Regions from separate parts of the Homo sapiens genome. Here regions 2 and 3 are each reported to be linked to region 1. The links are microRNA targets in miRTarBase. Many come from high-throughput screens and were not tested one by one. Region 1 holds a microRNA gene; each other region holds the end of a gene's coding sequence.

Region 1 (5,073 bases):
CCCTGAGATAGGAGGGCCCACATTTCCAATGGGGTGTGGACTGAGTGGCTCTTCCTGAATCCGTTTCCTCATTGGGAAGATGGGAGGGCTGTGCCTGTTCAGAGTGCTGTGGGCCTGCCATGAGGGGCACATAGCAAGCACTCCATAAATGCAGGCCCTGATGAGGAGGTGATGGGAAGGTCAAGGGGCTATGTGTGGGGCAACTGCCTCTAAAATGAGATCAGACCAGGCCCTCCCTGCCAGGGTGGTTGGGGCATGAAAAAAAACTCTTTGTCAGGTCTCAGAACAGGGTCCATGCTAGATGAGAGATCACCAAGGCCCCCTCCACTATGGACTCTGCCAGGTGAGGGGCCCAGCCTGAGAATCCAGCTGCTGGGGCTGCCCTTGACCTTCTCAGAACCTCAAACAGGGGGTGGGTGGCAAGAAGACAGAGGACAGGCCAGGTTCTGACCTCCAGGTGTGGAGGGGCCGCGTTAACCTCTTCATAGCCAGAGGGGAGCAGCTGTGTCCTTGCCCCCTGGGCTGGGCATCCTGTTCCCCTCCCCCAGCCCACTCCCAGCTGCAACCATGTCCAGTGGGAGGAAGGGGGACCAACTCCCGCCTCTGGCACCTGGTTTGTGCTCTGAGCTTCACTTTCCTCATCGCTAAATGGACAAGGCAGCAGAACTCACCCTCAGGAGACCCGCAACTCCTCTGCCACGTTAGCTGGGATTTTAGTACCTGGGTCTCTCCATTCCAGTTCCCCAAGTAGACCGCACTCCTGGCCACCAGCAGTGCTCAATAAAGATTTATTACATTAAAAATTCCATTGCCAAACCCTGAGGCACTCAGGGCTCTGACCGGTGCAGCCATGACCTCTGAACCCAGAACACATGGAAGCAGCAGCAGCTGAGTTGCCAACTCAAGTCTTGGCCTGCCTGGCTTTGCTGGCGAACTCCTGCACACCCTTCAAGGCCCTGTTCAAATGTCTCTGTCTTAGGCTGACGCAGCTGCTGCCCTTCTGTGGCCATACAGTGCTCCTTTTCACAGATGATGGCTCCTGCAGGGAGTGCCCCCAGTGCCCAGCACAGGGCCAGGCACACAGTGGTGCACGGGAACGTCTGCTGATGCCCACCCTAAGGCCAATCAAGGAGCCACGGGGCTGGGTCCTGGTCCTCACATCCTCTTCCGCATCTTGCCCTTCTTGGAGCGGGCACCCCGGCCGAAGGCGCCCTGCTGCAGCTCCTGGACGCGGCGGCGGTTGCGGGCAGAGAGCTGCTTGAGGCCACCACGCTGCAGGAAGTGCAGCTTCTGGGCCCGGCGCCGCTGCTTCAGGATCTGCTGCTTGGTCTTGAGTTCCGGGCGGACTCGGCCTGCAGGGGTGCCTGGGGCGTGGGGCCGGGATGCACCTGCTGGGACAGGGATTCAGGGAGCTCAGCTGTTGGGATCACTCCCAAGATCCCCTCCTCCCAGAAGCTTGCAGACTCCTCCCCTGCCCCTACTCCTGTTCTGTGCTTATTGCTGTGGCCCAGTGTCTGTACACAGTAGGTGGCTAATAAAGTTTTAGGCAGCCTCATGGAGTGGTCAATAACACGGGGCCAGAACCGCTGGGGTTCAAATCCCAGCTGTGACCTCTTGGACCGTGGGCAAGAAGTTAACGGCTCTGTGCCTCAGTTTCCCCATCTATGAATTATAAATCACAGCACCTCCCTCATGGGTGAAGAGTAAATGCATTTCCATGGTGTAAAGTGGTCAGAATTTCAAGGCCTGTCCCATAGTGGGAGCCTTTTGGGCATGACTGTTACTATTAAAAATTCTCCAACCAAGGAGTGTATGTCTCCACAGCACACCTACGGCACGCCAGGCTCTGAGGCCCCCCATAGTAACCGATACAGACCTCAGCCTCTGTCTCCATGGACACCATGCTCTAGGCTTGTTAGATGAAAAAAGAGTGTAGATGAACCTTCCTTTAGGTGGGAGAGGAATCAAAGAAGGCCAGAGAGGGAGAGGGACTTATCTGAGATCACACAGCAAAGCAGCAGCAGCAGCAGAGGTCAGCGACCCTGCCCCAGCCCCACAGGTGGGCATCAGGTAGTCCATTCTTCTAGTTCTCCGGGAGGCAAGCACCACCCTCCCTGGCTCCCACTAAGCCCTGTGTCCTCCTCCTCCTCTTCCCCATTCATAACAGCAGCCTCCCCAGGGCTCCTAGAGGGATGACCATTAAGGTGGTCCCAGCTGTCTCCAATGGAGCCAGGGTGCCTCGCAGGACCTATCACCTCCAATGAGGACAGCAAAGGAAGAACAGCTGCTTTTTCCCAAAGCCCACAGGTCGCCCCCGTCTCCCCAGCCCCTGCACGCCCACTGCACGGCAATGCTCGCAGCAGAAGCTGCTGTTTCACCTAGGTAAAAACAGGCTGAGAAGTGAGGTGTGGGTGGTCCCCACCCAGCCATGCTGACAAGGAGACACTCCCACAGATGGGAGAGCTGGAGAGGGAGGAGCCACAGAGAACAGGCCCAGGCAAATGCACGCAGGCTCACAGAGACACCCAGGGGAGGCAGTGACCAGCCCCAGGAGGTGGAGGGACACAAGCAGGGGCTAAGGCCATCTGAGAGAGACCCAAGACATGGTCCCAAACTCCCCTCTCCCCAGGGAAGACTCCAGGTGGGAGCCTTGGGCAGCTGGGTGACCCAGGTTCAGTCATAGCCCTCATAAGGCACCTGTTTCCTGGCCTGTAAAATGGGTATTCGCAGTCACCTTGCCTCCCAGGTCATGTGTGGCCTTCCAGGACAGAGCCTGCCTGCACCCAGCAAGCGGGAGCCCCTCCCTGATAACAGCCCTTAAGCACAGGCTCTGGCAGACAGAGCCGGCTTCAAATCCACCTTAGCTTGTTACTGGCTGAGGGACCCAGGCCAGATCAAAGAGGTCCAAGTCCTCAGATGACCAAATGTACCACTTGCCAACCCACATTTCAAGGAAGTATCTTCCTCAACATCCCCTGTGATCGCCTCCTCCCAGAACCAAAGCTGCTTCTGACTGCGTCTTTGGTGACATGAACTTCCCCACAGCATTGCTAAAAAGAACGTCACTCCTAAGGATGCCACAGGGAATCAATTCATGCTCACTGTCAGGTCGAACCACATGCAAATGCCATTTTTGCAGGTGAAAATGGCCTGCATTTGCACAAGGTTCCACCTCCCGGGTTCTCTAGGATTTTACACAATCGGCTTAATTAGGTGAACAGGGCATCTACCAGAAGTTATCCCTGTAGCTTCATCTGTGAAGTGGAAGGGGGTCGGGGACAAGGCACCTGAGGGGCATGGCACTTCCCAGCGCCTGTCAGGCGGTGCTCGTGACCATCAGAGGCCGGGACAGTAGGAAGGGGGAAACTGTGGGTGTGGGGGTTGGGTGGGGGGGATCATGGAGGGACCCAGGGTTTTGGCAGCATACCCCAACACACCCAGCTCTGGGGCTCTGCAGTAGCCCCTGCACCTGTGCCTCAGCGTTACCCTAATCTGACCACAACTGCTCTGCCTACCTGTGCACCCACACTCCCCACCCTGGCTCTCACCTTGGCCACGGTCTCGCTTCCCACCTCTTCGCTCTGGGCCTCGCCGGTCAGATGCCCCTTCTTCGTCCGAGTCACGATCATCAATTTTCTGTTTCTGTTTCCACTTCTGATAGCTGGGAAACCTCGTTAAGGAAGCTGCGTGAAGCCCCTGGGATGGGAGAAGGCTCCTCCCCACACTGCCCCAGCAGACAGAGTTCCGTTATCCCAGCCGCAGCTGAAGCTGCTCGGCCCCGCCCCCAGCACACAGGTCCCACTTATTGGAGATGCTGTTGCTGAAGCTGCTCGGCCCCGCCCCCAGCACCAGGTCCCACTTATTGGAGATGCCGCTGCTGAAGCTGCTGGGCCCGCCCCCAGCACAGGCCCCACTTACTGGAGATGCTGCTGCTGAAGCTGCTGGGCCCCGCCCCCAGCACAGGTCCCACTAGTTCGAGATGCTGCTGCTGAAGCTGCTCGGCCCCGCCCCCAGCACCAGGTCCCATCTATTGGAGATGCGGCTGCTTAAGCCGCTCAGCCCCGCCCCCTCCTCCCCGCCCCCGCCCCCGCCCCCAGGTTCCACTTAATTGAAGCTGCTCCTGCTGAAGCTCCTCGGCCCCGCCCCTCCCCAGCCACGCCCCTCAGGATACAGGTCTCGCTTGTAGGAGCTGCTGATGTAGCGGCCGCTCTCTGTCTTAATCTTCTTCTTGTCTTCCTGTCCTGACTGTCCCACAAACCGCTTCTTCTTACGGTCCCTGCAGGAGAGGGAGTTGGGACGGCTGCCGTGGAGGGAAACCCTTGGAGTGCCGGCTGCCGCTTGGGGCCTGTCTCCTCACCCGACCCTCTTGTCAGGTTGTTGGAGCATTAAAGGAAAGCAGTGCAGCCATGTCTGGCATGCAGTTGGCGCTCAATAAAGGCTTCTTCCCTATCCCTCCTCACCTCTCCCTGCAGTCCAGGTCTCAAAAGGGAGTGCGGAGGTCAGAGGACTGCCGCCAGCACTGGGGCCTGGCTCAGGGACAAGGGCCTCCTGGAGGGTTTCCAATCCCCTCCCCCTACCCAGCTGTGACCCTGGGTTGAGTCACATACACTCTCCAGACGCTAGAGTCCTGAACGAATGGGTCCTGAGCCCTGTCTAGAAAGACTTGCCAGCAAAAAGAATAGACGGGGTCAAGATCTCTGTGGTGTGTGATCAAATCAAGGGGACAGCACAGCCAGGGGCCATCACACCTGCTGTGAGTGGTCACATGGGGGACAGCCAGGCCATAATCTGGGCTGTGCAGGATCAGATGGGAGTGAGGACTTCAGGGAGCTCACCCTGCCTGCTGGCATGGAGGGCAGCTCACTCGATCACTCACCCTGGGCCTGGAGGGGTGGCTCACTCGCTCACTCACCCCAGGGAATGGAGGGGCGGCTCACTCGCTCACTCACTTCAGGGAATGGAGGTAGGGGAGGCTCACTCGCTCACTCACCCCAGGCATGGAGGGGCAGCTCACTCTCTCACTCACCCTGGGCCTGGAGGGGCAGCTCACTCGATCACTCACCCCGGGCATGG
Region 2 (5,062 bases), not on the chromosome of region 1:
TACAAGTGTTGAGAAAACAGTATGTCCACTGGGTAATGATAGACAAAAAAACAAAGGGAACCCCAGGAACTCTTTTTAGTTAAATATTTATATAATTAAATAGAATCTTGAGTAATTTTTTCTTTATAAATGTCATTACCTTTGTGAACCAAACAGCTGAATACCTTTGTTTTGATCTATTTTCTTCTAGGCTGATGTAGACCCTCAAAGACCACCAAGGCCAGAAGTAAAAATTACCAGTCCAGAAGAAAATGAAAACAACCAACAAAACAAGGACTATGCTGCCGTGGCTTAGAACATTTTTAAAAAGAGAGTATATGGATCGCAAGAAAAATGAAGGGTTATCATACTTGAAAGATAAGCACATAGTTATTGCTGAATATAATGTGACACTATGGTCGAATACTACCTACGAATTATAACATTAGAAGCCTAGTGGAAAGACCAGATAACTTTAAATGGCTACTAAAGGATAATTACTTACTTTTATTGCATGTGTTTTAAAAGTCATATAGAAATATTAAATAAGACGGACAGAGGAGAATTTGCACTGGAAGACAATTGCCACTTGTAAAGGATGAAAAATAGGATCACTCTTATTGTACGCTTTATTATAAGTTTAGAAGGCAGTTTATTCTAAATAATTTTTCTCTAGGAAGGCGTAGAATTTTAAAGAACTGGTAATAGGAAAGCATGTACTATTTTCTTAAAGCAATAAACTCTTGAATGAACAGATTGCGATTTACTTTCAGACATAATTTGGAGATGGCAGTAGATCAAAATGTGTCCATGACTTGTTAACATGCCTTTCTTTCTTCCTCCTTAGCCAAAATCCACCTTTGAACTACAAAGACAGAGCAAGGCGTTCATTTTGGTGGGAGGAAGCATTGGTTCAGAGTGTTAGTGACTAGTATCGCCATGCCGTCACTTAAATGCTTTCAGGCTTGCATGCTTGTGGCTCCAATGGCGCACACTCAGGAAGGAATTGTAAAGGAGCACCCAGTTATATTATAAAGCCTGGATGTATGGTTTGCAGATAATGGAAATCCTGTGGATTTTCACTGATCCAGTCTATCTTTACCAATAGTATCTCTCTCTTCTCCCTTATGTTATTAGAGAACCTGATATTGGCTATTCCAAAGATTAAATTATTTTCAAATAGTTTTCAACAAAAATAAAAGTGTATTAGGAAGAAAAAAGTAGACTATATGAAGAGTTTGTGACTGCTCAATTTAACTTGTTTTTTGCCTTATTTCTATTAAGACTGTTTTACTATGTTTTTGCCCTAGGGATATCAGCAAATATTTATTTTTCCTAGCATGATATAGTTAGAATTTCAAGCAGATTTCTTTGTAATTAGAAGGCATCTGATAGAAATTGTAAAACTTTAGAAGTTATTATAATGAAACCAATTCCTGAATCACAACTTCATGGACTGACTAAATTGATTTATAGTTGCCTTGTGAGGTATGTATGGGGAAAACATAAAAACATAATTAAAACATAATTTCGTCCTTTTTATGAATTCTTAAGAGATGTTCTTCCATAAATATAGAAATAATATATTTTTCTTAAAGGATATATTTTTAATTATGTGGAAGTTGTAAGCTTGAAATTTTAACTTCTAGTGCTTTTCTAAAATTCACAATTACAAGTTTAAAACATTTTTTCTCTTCCAGGTTTCATTTGGAATAAAGAGTTGGCAGTTATATAAAGCACTTAATAATACTATAGAAAATAGATGTGTTTTTTCTTAATATGATTTTGGTATTTTCCACAGATCAGAAGTGTAAACAGAGAGATAATGTAACAGTATTTGGAAGAGATAATGACACAAGGATATAGTGATCTGGGAGCATGAATTAGAAACAGGGTACTATGTTTCTGGTGTAAAATCTAAATTGTGCTTTCTACTAGCGTTACTTTTTCAAATGGGATGATATAAAGCACTGTGGGCTATAAGCAACAATCTTGGGTTGGTAGGCAAATAGACCAATTGATCTTTATTATTATTATTATTATTATTATTATTATTTTTTGAGATGAAGTCTTGCTCTTGTCGCCCAGGCTGGGTGCAGTGGCATGATCTTGGCTTACTGCAACCTCTGCCTCCTGGGTTCAAGCACCTGAGCCTCCCGAGTAGCTGGGATTACAGGCATCTGCCACCACACCTGGCTAATTTTTGTATTTTTTGTAGAGACAGATGTTTCACCATGTTGGCCAGGCTGGTCTCAAACTCCTGACCTCAGGTGATCCGCCCGCCTTTGCATCCCAAAATGCTGGGATTACAGGTGTGAGCCACAGCACCCGGTCCCAGTTGGTCTTTTAATATTAAATTTGTGCACTATTACTGGGTCTGGAGTTAATGATTTCAAATAGTTTCTAAAAATAACTGATTAAATGTAAGAAATTATAACTAATTATCAAGGTGATTCTCTTTTGTTTCTTCAATGGAGAGTTTCTCTTTCTCTTTTCCTCCTCTAATAAAAATATTTCTTTTTTTCCTGTCCTTTTATTCATTATATTATGAAACTTAGGTTTTAGGAAACACCTTAAGCGTCATTTTAATGAAGCACAACATTGATATTTTACATGAATAATAACGTTTGGTATTTTAAATATACTTCAAGGGGGTAATAAGCCACAATAACTGTACCAAAAAAACTTAAAAATGGGGACATATTCATCCCTTGTGTGTGCATATTTTACCACTTGTTGACAAGATACAATTGTGACCTACTTTGAGGGGATGAATAACGACTTATCACTTTAAGACACTTTGCAAACATGTTACTAAAAAAAGGTGCCTAGCCAAGGAAAAAACCATTCACTTGGAATTAAAATTGTGGATGTCACTTCAGAGATGACTTTAACATAAATGCTGAAAGTTCATTCACCTCACAAATGTGGCAGTTTTCTCTGTGGAGAATGGTGGTCTCCGTGGCAGACTGGCTCTCCAAATTAAATGAAACTCATTGACAGACCTGGGACCTTTTATGTGAGTGGACAGACAAGATCTTGGTTTGGCTTCATGTACTGTTTTCTAGAGAGAGTGCTACGAAAAACTTATGATGCTTTTATGTGATAACCAATATAATGCTTTAATATGTTAATTCTTTGTGATGCTATATACATAGTTTTTATAGTTTTATGAAACCACTTTGTTAAACTTATCTGGATTTTAAGACACTTGTAAACAAATGGTTTGTTAGTAAAATTGGGGCATTAAGAGTTTTACAGAGCAAATAAAGAAGATTTTGACAAAAGTCATTTTGAGGCTAAGGGTGTTTTACCTGGGTTAACTTCTGTTAAAATAGCTATTGAGTGCCCATTGACTTATAAAATACGATACTATGACCATAAAATAACTTTTTACTTCTTATTCTTCTCTATGACCTTAGGATGACTTTATTTTTTTAAGACATTTTTCCTATATGTTTTTGGGGGAATGTTAGGTTGCCACACTCATAGGAAAAGTGTGATGCTATCATGCCTCCTGTTTTATTGTAAAGGTGTGAATTCTTGCTATGTGGTGTGTGAAGACAGAACTATCCCATACATACGTGGTTCAGAGTGAGATATCTCTAGGCTCACAGTTGTGAACCCATATTAATATGGTATTATTCCTGCCAACTCTTCCAATTTATAGCTCATAAACTAACATCCTAAACATTGTCATTGAATGACCTACCTTATACACAAAGGATAAAGTTCATTCACCTAGAAAAAAATCTGTGCATTTAAATTAGTGGCCGCAAGACAACAGGAAGCTTTCTTTCATTTTTTGTTCAACAAACCTTGCAAAAGCAAAGTTTAAAAAGTAGATTAATTCATCAACAGAAAGCATCACATGGAAACTGTGGCCAATCTGAAGAGAAATATAGCATGTAGACATAGATATGTATCAAATACTTATACAGATGCACTCACACACTTTAAAACATTAAAAAGGCCTCCTGAGGCACAGCGTTATTAATAAAACAAGGCTCTTTTGGGTGAAGTTGAGAGAAGCAATGAGTTAAAACGTGAGAGGAAATGCTAAGAAATGATATATATTATGGTGCTTTAAATCTTGATTTCCTAAGACTTTAAGAGATTTAAAATTCTTCTCCAAATAAGAAACCAGCATGTCAATGAAAAATGTATTCTAGGGAGGTGTTGAAACAAATCCGGTTTTTAAAATGTGATATATCACATAAACCAAAACAGAAACCAAGACATATCTTGTTTTCCTGAAGTAACTACAGAGCATGGTTCTTTTCCATCAACCTTAAGCACGATACATTTCAGGTGTAGATTCTTTTATACCAATACAGATTCTGTTATTACTGTTTGTGACCATGTGTGTGCATGTGTGATTTACATAGATGTGTCAGGACTCTTTTTCATACCAGTTAGCCGGGGTATCACAAATAGAATGAAAGACTGACTTATTGGTCCATTAGTTTATATAATGTTCAGGTTCAGTGCGGAAGCATTTTGGCATTCTTCAGGAATGAAACCATTTTTAAAAGGTTAGTCTGTTACTCTAAGATGATGAACACATACAGTTCTTTGTCATTAAATATCATTTTTGTAAATACCACAAGATTTTTCCTCTTTAAAACATATCGGGACATTTAGATGGGACTGATTTTTGTTCTCCCTACATGAAATTTGTATATTTCCTCCCATGAAGTTTGAGTGACATGAATGGGGAATACAAGAGTGTTCCCTTATGTTGATAAGGAAAAAGATACTGTTTTTTGAAGAGGCATAACATCCTGTAGGAGATGGGGAGTTAGGACAGTTTTTAAAAATGCCTGGATTACCATAAGGCATTTATAAAATGAGGAGGTGTAACCAGTGGAGCTCTGTTGACTTAACGCCAACAACGACTTCAGCTTTACTCTAAGAATGGGACCAGATGAATTCTCTGTAGTTTCATCAGCTTGAACGATATAGTTTGTTTCATTTATTGTCACGAATGCAATGACATATGGAAAGAGGGAATGATTGTAGTCATTCTTAGGAGAATTTTCGAGAAAGCCTGTTTTGTCTTTTGCTTCAGTGTTTTTTCTTG
Region 3 (5,062 bases), not on the chromosome of region 1:
CCAGACTCCCAGGCCCCCTTTCCATTCTTTTGGAGGTACCTGATTTTTCTCTCAAGGTAGCCAGGAGCCTGGGTTCTAATCAGGTCCCTGCTACCATCTTGCTCTTGCTATAGGGGAAGTCACATACCCTCTCTAGGCTTCAGTTTCTTACCAATAAAATGGGTAATAATTTCTGTCCTGATGACTTTTGGGGGCCAAAGAAGTAAACTTACTGGACAAACTGAAACCAACCCTGGGCCTCCAACCAGCCTTGGGCCAAGGGGAAGTACTCGTATAGACAGCCCAGCTCCTGGCCCACAATCACCCAGTACAGCCACAGGACCTATCCTTCTTCCTTCTTCCTGCACAGCGCAACCACAGCAAGCTCAGAGCAGAGGGTCAAAGGCCTCGTCTGGAGTCCTGAGTCAGGTCCAGGGCATGGGACAGGCGCCTCAGTCTGGGTGGGGGATAAAGGCAGCTAGAGACTAGGTCAGGCCAAGACTGGCTGCTGTCGGGGGAGGGGGCGCCTGGCAGGCGCTGGGCAGGCTGGGGTTGGGGGAGGCCTTTGGCGGCCTCAGAGAACAAAGAGGCCGGGGTTGCCAGGATATTCTGTGGAGTTGAAGCCGGTGGTGATGGGGCTGGGAGAGGGGCCGCAGCGGCCGTGGGAACTGCGCCTGCTGCCCCCACGCCAGCTCCCCCATCCAGACTGGGCCTCAGGGCCATGCGAGGGCACAGGCTGCAGGTGAGAGGGGCTGTCAGATCCCCCACTCTCTCCCTAGAGAGGCTTTCAGGGCGGAGACCCAGGAAGTGCTGGAGGCAGACACACAAGGCAATAGTGTCAGCAACACTGAGAGGATCACAGGTGCACACTGACACAAAGCCATGACCACACACCCAGGGTTATGCAGGCAGCATCACAGGGTCACACTATAGTCACACGGAGACATCACACACACACAATCCCTGGTCAGTCCCAGCCCACATCCATGATGGCCACACAGACACAAAGTCACACACTTATTGAACCACCCAGTTTTGCCACAGGGTCACGCAATGCCACGTGTGTTGTAAACCCAAAGTGACACACTCACATAGAATCACTCAATGTCACACACTCACACAGAATCACCCAAAGTCACACATTCAGTTGTACAAGCCGGTATCACACTGGGTCTGTTACAGAACTGTACAATGTCACAAGAGTACACACGCAATGTCACAGAACATTCCAAAGTGTGGCCACTGACATACACTAACCCATTCACATCTCAGTCTCCAATAAACTGTCACAAACCCATTTGCATATCACACCCGATGTCACACATAGCCACATTACTGCACAAAGCCTCACACAATTGTCAGGCCCTTAAAGCATCACTCACACACACACACACACACACACACACACACACACGTCCACGCAGGGGCTACCTGGAGGCTGGACTTCTCTCCAGCCCAGTGTGTGCACCCAGCCTCTCAAACCCCCACCGTTCTGTGTCTAGAGCTGGCTCTAAATGCCAGATCACCCAGGTCAGGGTACAGGGTACCTGGAGGAAAGGCTCCTGGGTCACCAGGAAGTCAGTTTCCCAACTGTAGCAGAGGAGAGGTGAGGGCACCTGAGGGGAGGGGAGCTGGGTACACAACCCTGCCAGGGAGCCTGCCTCTAAGGAAGTCTCCGTCAGCTGGGGAACAGCAGGGGTGAGCCTGCAACAGACAGAGTACAAGATACAGAGATGGAGAGACAGGAGGGGCAGAGACCCAGAGACACGGAGAGGCTTAGAGATCAGGAAAGATGGAGACCCAAAGACACAGGAGCGTCAGGGACCGAAAGAGACCTTCAGGACATGCAGAGAGTGAGCCAGAGAGACAGAAAGCTGGTGCAGGCTGGGGTCGGGCTGCATCCAGGTAGGGGAAGGGCCAGAGGCTGGGTCACTCTACGGAGGTGGGAAGTGGGAGGTGGGAGGTGGGGGTGGCCAGGGCTTCAGGGAGGACACACAGCCAGGCAGAAGGTGAGGGACATCTTGGTGAGATTTAGGTGAATAATAGTTTAAAAATAGCAACACCAGCTGCCATTGACAGAGCTTGCAAGTCAGGCCCTTCCCAAGTGTGATCGCATTTCATCCTCAGGCAACTTTATGGGGGAAACAATTATTGTCCCGTTTCCCAGATGAGGTAACTGAGTCCTCAGCATGTTTTCAGCCAGCCTCACAGCTGTCCCCACCCCTGGCCTCCAAACAGAGGGGCTGGCTTACCATTTCCACAAAGCAGTGTGAAGCTGGAACAGGTGAGGAGCTCTGAGTTTCGGCCGTGTGCTGGGGAGTGGGCTCAGGAGACACGCTGGGCTGTGGGTTGGCACACTGAAAGGTACAGGCCGGCTGAGTCACAGCACCCCCTCTGGGCTGGCAACAGAGCCGTCCACCCCACACCTGTAGGTGTGCCAACGAGGGCCGGCTGAGGCCATCTGCAGCCTGTGTGCTGCCAGCAGCGGGCGGAGGCAGGAAGGGGCCTCCTGCCCGGTGCCCCCTGCTGGCCAGGCTCCCCCCACTCCCCACAGGAGGACCCTCCCCACCCTCCTCGAGGTTCTGGAGGTGCCGCTGTTTGCCTTGTGCTGGGGGTGAGGGTGCCCCCCAGCTGCAACACCTCCCCCTACTCCCTGCTGGACACCCCCCTTCGGCAGAGCCGCCTGGAGAGATCACAGGCAGCCACATGAAAGGGAATTTTTCCCAGGCAGAGCTGAAGTTGAAAGCTGCCTCCCACCGCCCCTGCCTGCCCCCGCTGTGCCAGGCCAGGCTGCTGAGGCCCTGGCGCTCGAAGGGAGCTTGTGACACCTGGGAAGGGGTTGGGGGTCAGCGCCACCCCCACCCAACATGGCTGCTTTCTCCTCTCAGGACAATGGCAGAGATAGCCCATCTCCCCCACCTCACTGCCCACTCAGCCTCAGAAATCGCTCCAGCTCTCACCCACCTGAAGCCAGTGCCCAACACTGTCAGGAAGTCCTTCCTGAAGTCTAGCCTCCATCTCAGCCAGGCTCAAAGCAGCTGGGTGAGAAGAACGCTCCCCCAGTGGATGGCTAAGCCTCCTCCTTCAGGTTGGCCTCTGTGATGTACAGGGAGGGGCATGCCACTGCCACCCCTTCCTGTTCAGGCTGCCCTGGCCCAGACCATGTGGCTGTGTGGTGACTTCCCCAGACATTTGACCTCTGAGGTCCCCAGCAGCCTTGTACCAACAAACCCTCTGAGAGTGGGGACAGTCAAAGCCAAGGACACCCCCGTAACTCAGCCTAGCAGCCCTCAGGCCTAAAGAGGAATAGGCGTGTGTGTACAGCCAGGTCCCCACGAAGCCGAGCTGAAACTATTCCCTGGAGAATGACATTGGTGGCTGCGGGAGCACTAGATCCCTGCCAGGTAAGAAAGAAAGAAAGAAGACCCTGAACAGGCAGCTCAGCCTTACCCCCACCTGCCTCGTGGTGCTGGTTGCTTTACTCATCAGGCCCTGATGAACTTAGGTGAGTGAACAGAGGTGGCCCCAAGTGAGTGAAGGTCCCTGGAGGTCCAGGTTCTGAGGCATGGGGTGCAACCAGGCAGTGACTTCCAGATTAAGAGCCTTTCCCTCCTGTCTGCTGGGCTGGTTGCTCCTGCTCTCCCCCATTCTGGATCCAGAGGCCTCTCTTCCCCAAGAAATTCCCATTCTAAATGTCCCTGGGCCATCCTTCTTCCTCCTCCAGGTGGTCCCAGACAATCCCTGCTCAGGAACGGCCCCCAAGTCAGCCCCCCAAAACCGGAGAGCAAGAAGCCAGCGGTGCTTCGTGACACAAACATGCATTCGTTTTATTCACAAAACAGCCTGGTTTCCTAAAACAATACAAACAGCATGTTCATCAGCAGGAAGCTGGCCGTGGGCAGGGGGGCCCAGGCCGCAGGGGGCCCCCTGGGGACCCACCCCCACCAGCAGGGGACCACGCAAAGAAGCCCTTTCTTCTGTTGCCATTAGCAAGGCCAGAAAAAAAGGACTTATTTTCTCTAAGAAAAGTAGCCAGGATTGGAAATATCGAGATGGGGCTCCCCAGATCGCAATGGATAAACGAACAGAACTTTCATTTTTTTTTCCAAAATCACTGTTGGGGTGGGGGATCCCAGTCTCGGGACTGTGGGTGCAGCTCAGCTGGCCTGGTGCTCCCTCCCCTTCTGTGAGCTCCCTGCTGGCAGCTCTGCACGCGTGGATGGATACAGAGCGGCTTCTACACGGCGCCATCAACATTCTCTTTATGAACGTGAGTGGATTCTCCAGGCAAACTATGCACTATTTCATGGTCGGAAAGAATCAAAGGAAGTTTAAATGAGGGTGGAGTTAAACTGTGCTAAATTACAGTAGTGCTTATTAGTAACTAGATTTCAAAAGGTTACAGAAAATTTACATTCTCTACACAAAAACTGCATCTCCTGCACAGACAACATCGACATCGACACAGGAAGGAAACTGATTGTCCATTCTTTGCCCAGGAAGTCTCGGTACTTTATAGATTCGTCTTTACCTCTTTTTTGTTGTTGTTCTTCCGAAAAAGCAGTTTAAATTTTTTTCTTTTTCTTTTTATGCTAGGGACGTGGAGATGTTAAAACGACAACAAAAAATATATATATAAAAACAGGAATGAAATCTGTGAGAGAATATTTTTGGTTCTAAAGACGGGTGCATCCGTTTGTCTTCGCCCGAATCCCTTGCTGGAGACCACACGAGCAGTGACATTGCACGGAGAGGGCAGCTTTGGGTTCCGCCGCCGTCACTGAAACCACCGGAAGGCGGCTCCCGTCGGAAGCATCACCTTCTGGCGGGGGCGGGAGACAAAAACAAGGAGAGAGTTCAGTCAGGGTCCGGGTAGGCCTGGAGCAAAGACGTTCCCCCATGGATGGCCTCATGGCGGAGGGACAGGCATGGAGGAAGAGCAGCCACCCCTCGGAGCTCCTGCCACCCCAGCCAGGCCAAAGGAGGCGCTTGACCTGCTGGGCTGCTGGAAGGCCCCGAGGACTCTGAGGCCTCCTGAGCCACTGTGCCCAGGAACCCTCCTTCCAGAGAAGAAGTCCCTTCC

Evidence for each region. The annotated mature microRNA hsa-miR-7106-3p reads AGCUCCCUGAAUCCCUGUCCCAG and lies in region 1 at 1,392-1,414, opposite strand. An mRNA with a match to its seed (bases 2 to 7 or 8) in the 3' UTR can be bound and repressed. Matches are read on the target gene's strand: a 7mer-m8 pairs with bases 2 to 8, a 7mer-A1 pairs with bases 2 to 7 and ends in A, and an 8mer does both.
Region 2: the mRNA of DCDC2 is a reported target of hsa-miR-7106-3p. Seed matches in the 3' UTR shown: 7mer-A1 at 1,852-1,858.
Region 3: the mRNA of CXXC5 is a reported target of hsa-miR-7106-3p. Seed matches in the 3' UTR shown: 7mer-m8 at 4,170-4,176 and 8mer at 4,150-4,157.

The regions. Positions count from the first base shown.
Region 1 is chr12:113,157,722-113,162,794 of GRCh38, forward strand. It overlaps MIR7106 (microRNA 7106), which reads right to left and starts at 1,456; the gene lies at 1,392-1,456. It overlaps CFAP73 (cilia and flagella associated protein 73), which reads left to right. Exons shown (of 8, transcript NM_001144872.3): 8 at 980-1,555. DDX54 (DEAD-box helicase 54) reads right to left here. Exons shown (of 20, transcript NM_024072.4): 18 at 4,172-4,276; 19 at 3,549-3,661; 20 at 1-1,388. The coding sequence ends at 1,156.
Region 2 is chr6:24,169,963-24,175,024 of GRCh38, reverse strand. It overlaps DCDC2 (doublecortin domain containing 2), which reads left to right. Exons shown (of 10, transcript NM_016356.5): 10 at 191-3,270. The coding sequence ends at 295. Among named protein-coding and RNA genes, the nearest start is that of NRSN1, 46 kb to the right of the region's middle.
Region 3 is chr5:139,682,602-139,687,663 of GRCh38, reverse strand. It overlaps CXXC5 (CXXC finger protein 5), which reads right to left. Exons shown (of 3, transcript NM_016463.9): 3 at 3,782-4,801. The coding sequence ends at 4,757. Among named protein-coding and RNA genes, the nearest start is that of CXXC5-AS1, 35 kb to the right of the region's middle. RefSeq lists an enhancer at 2,066-2,720.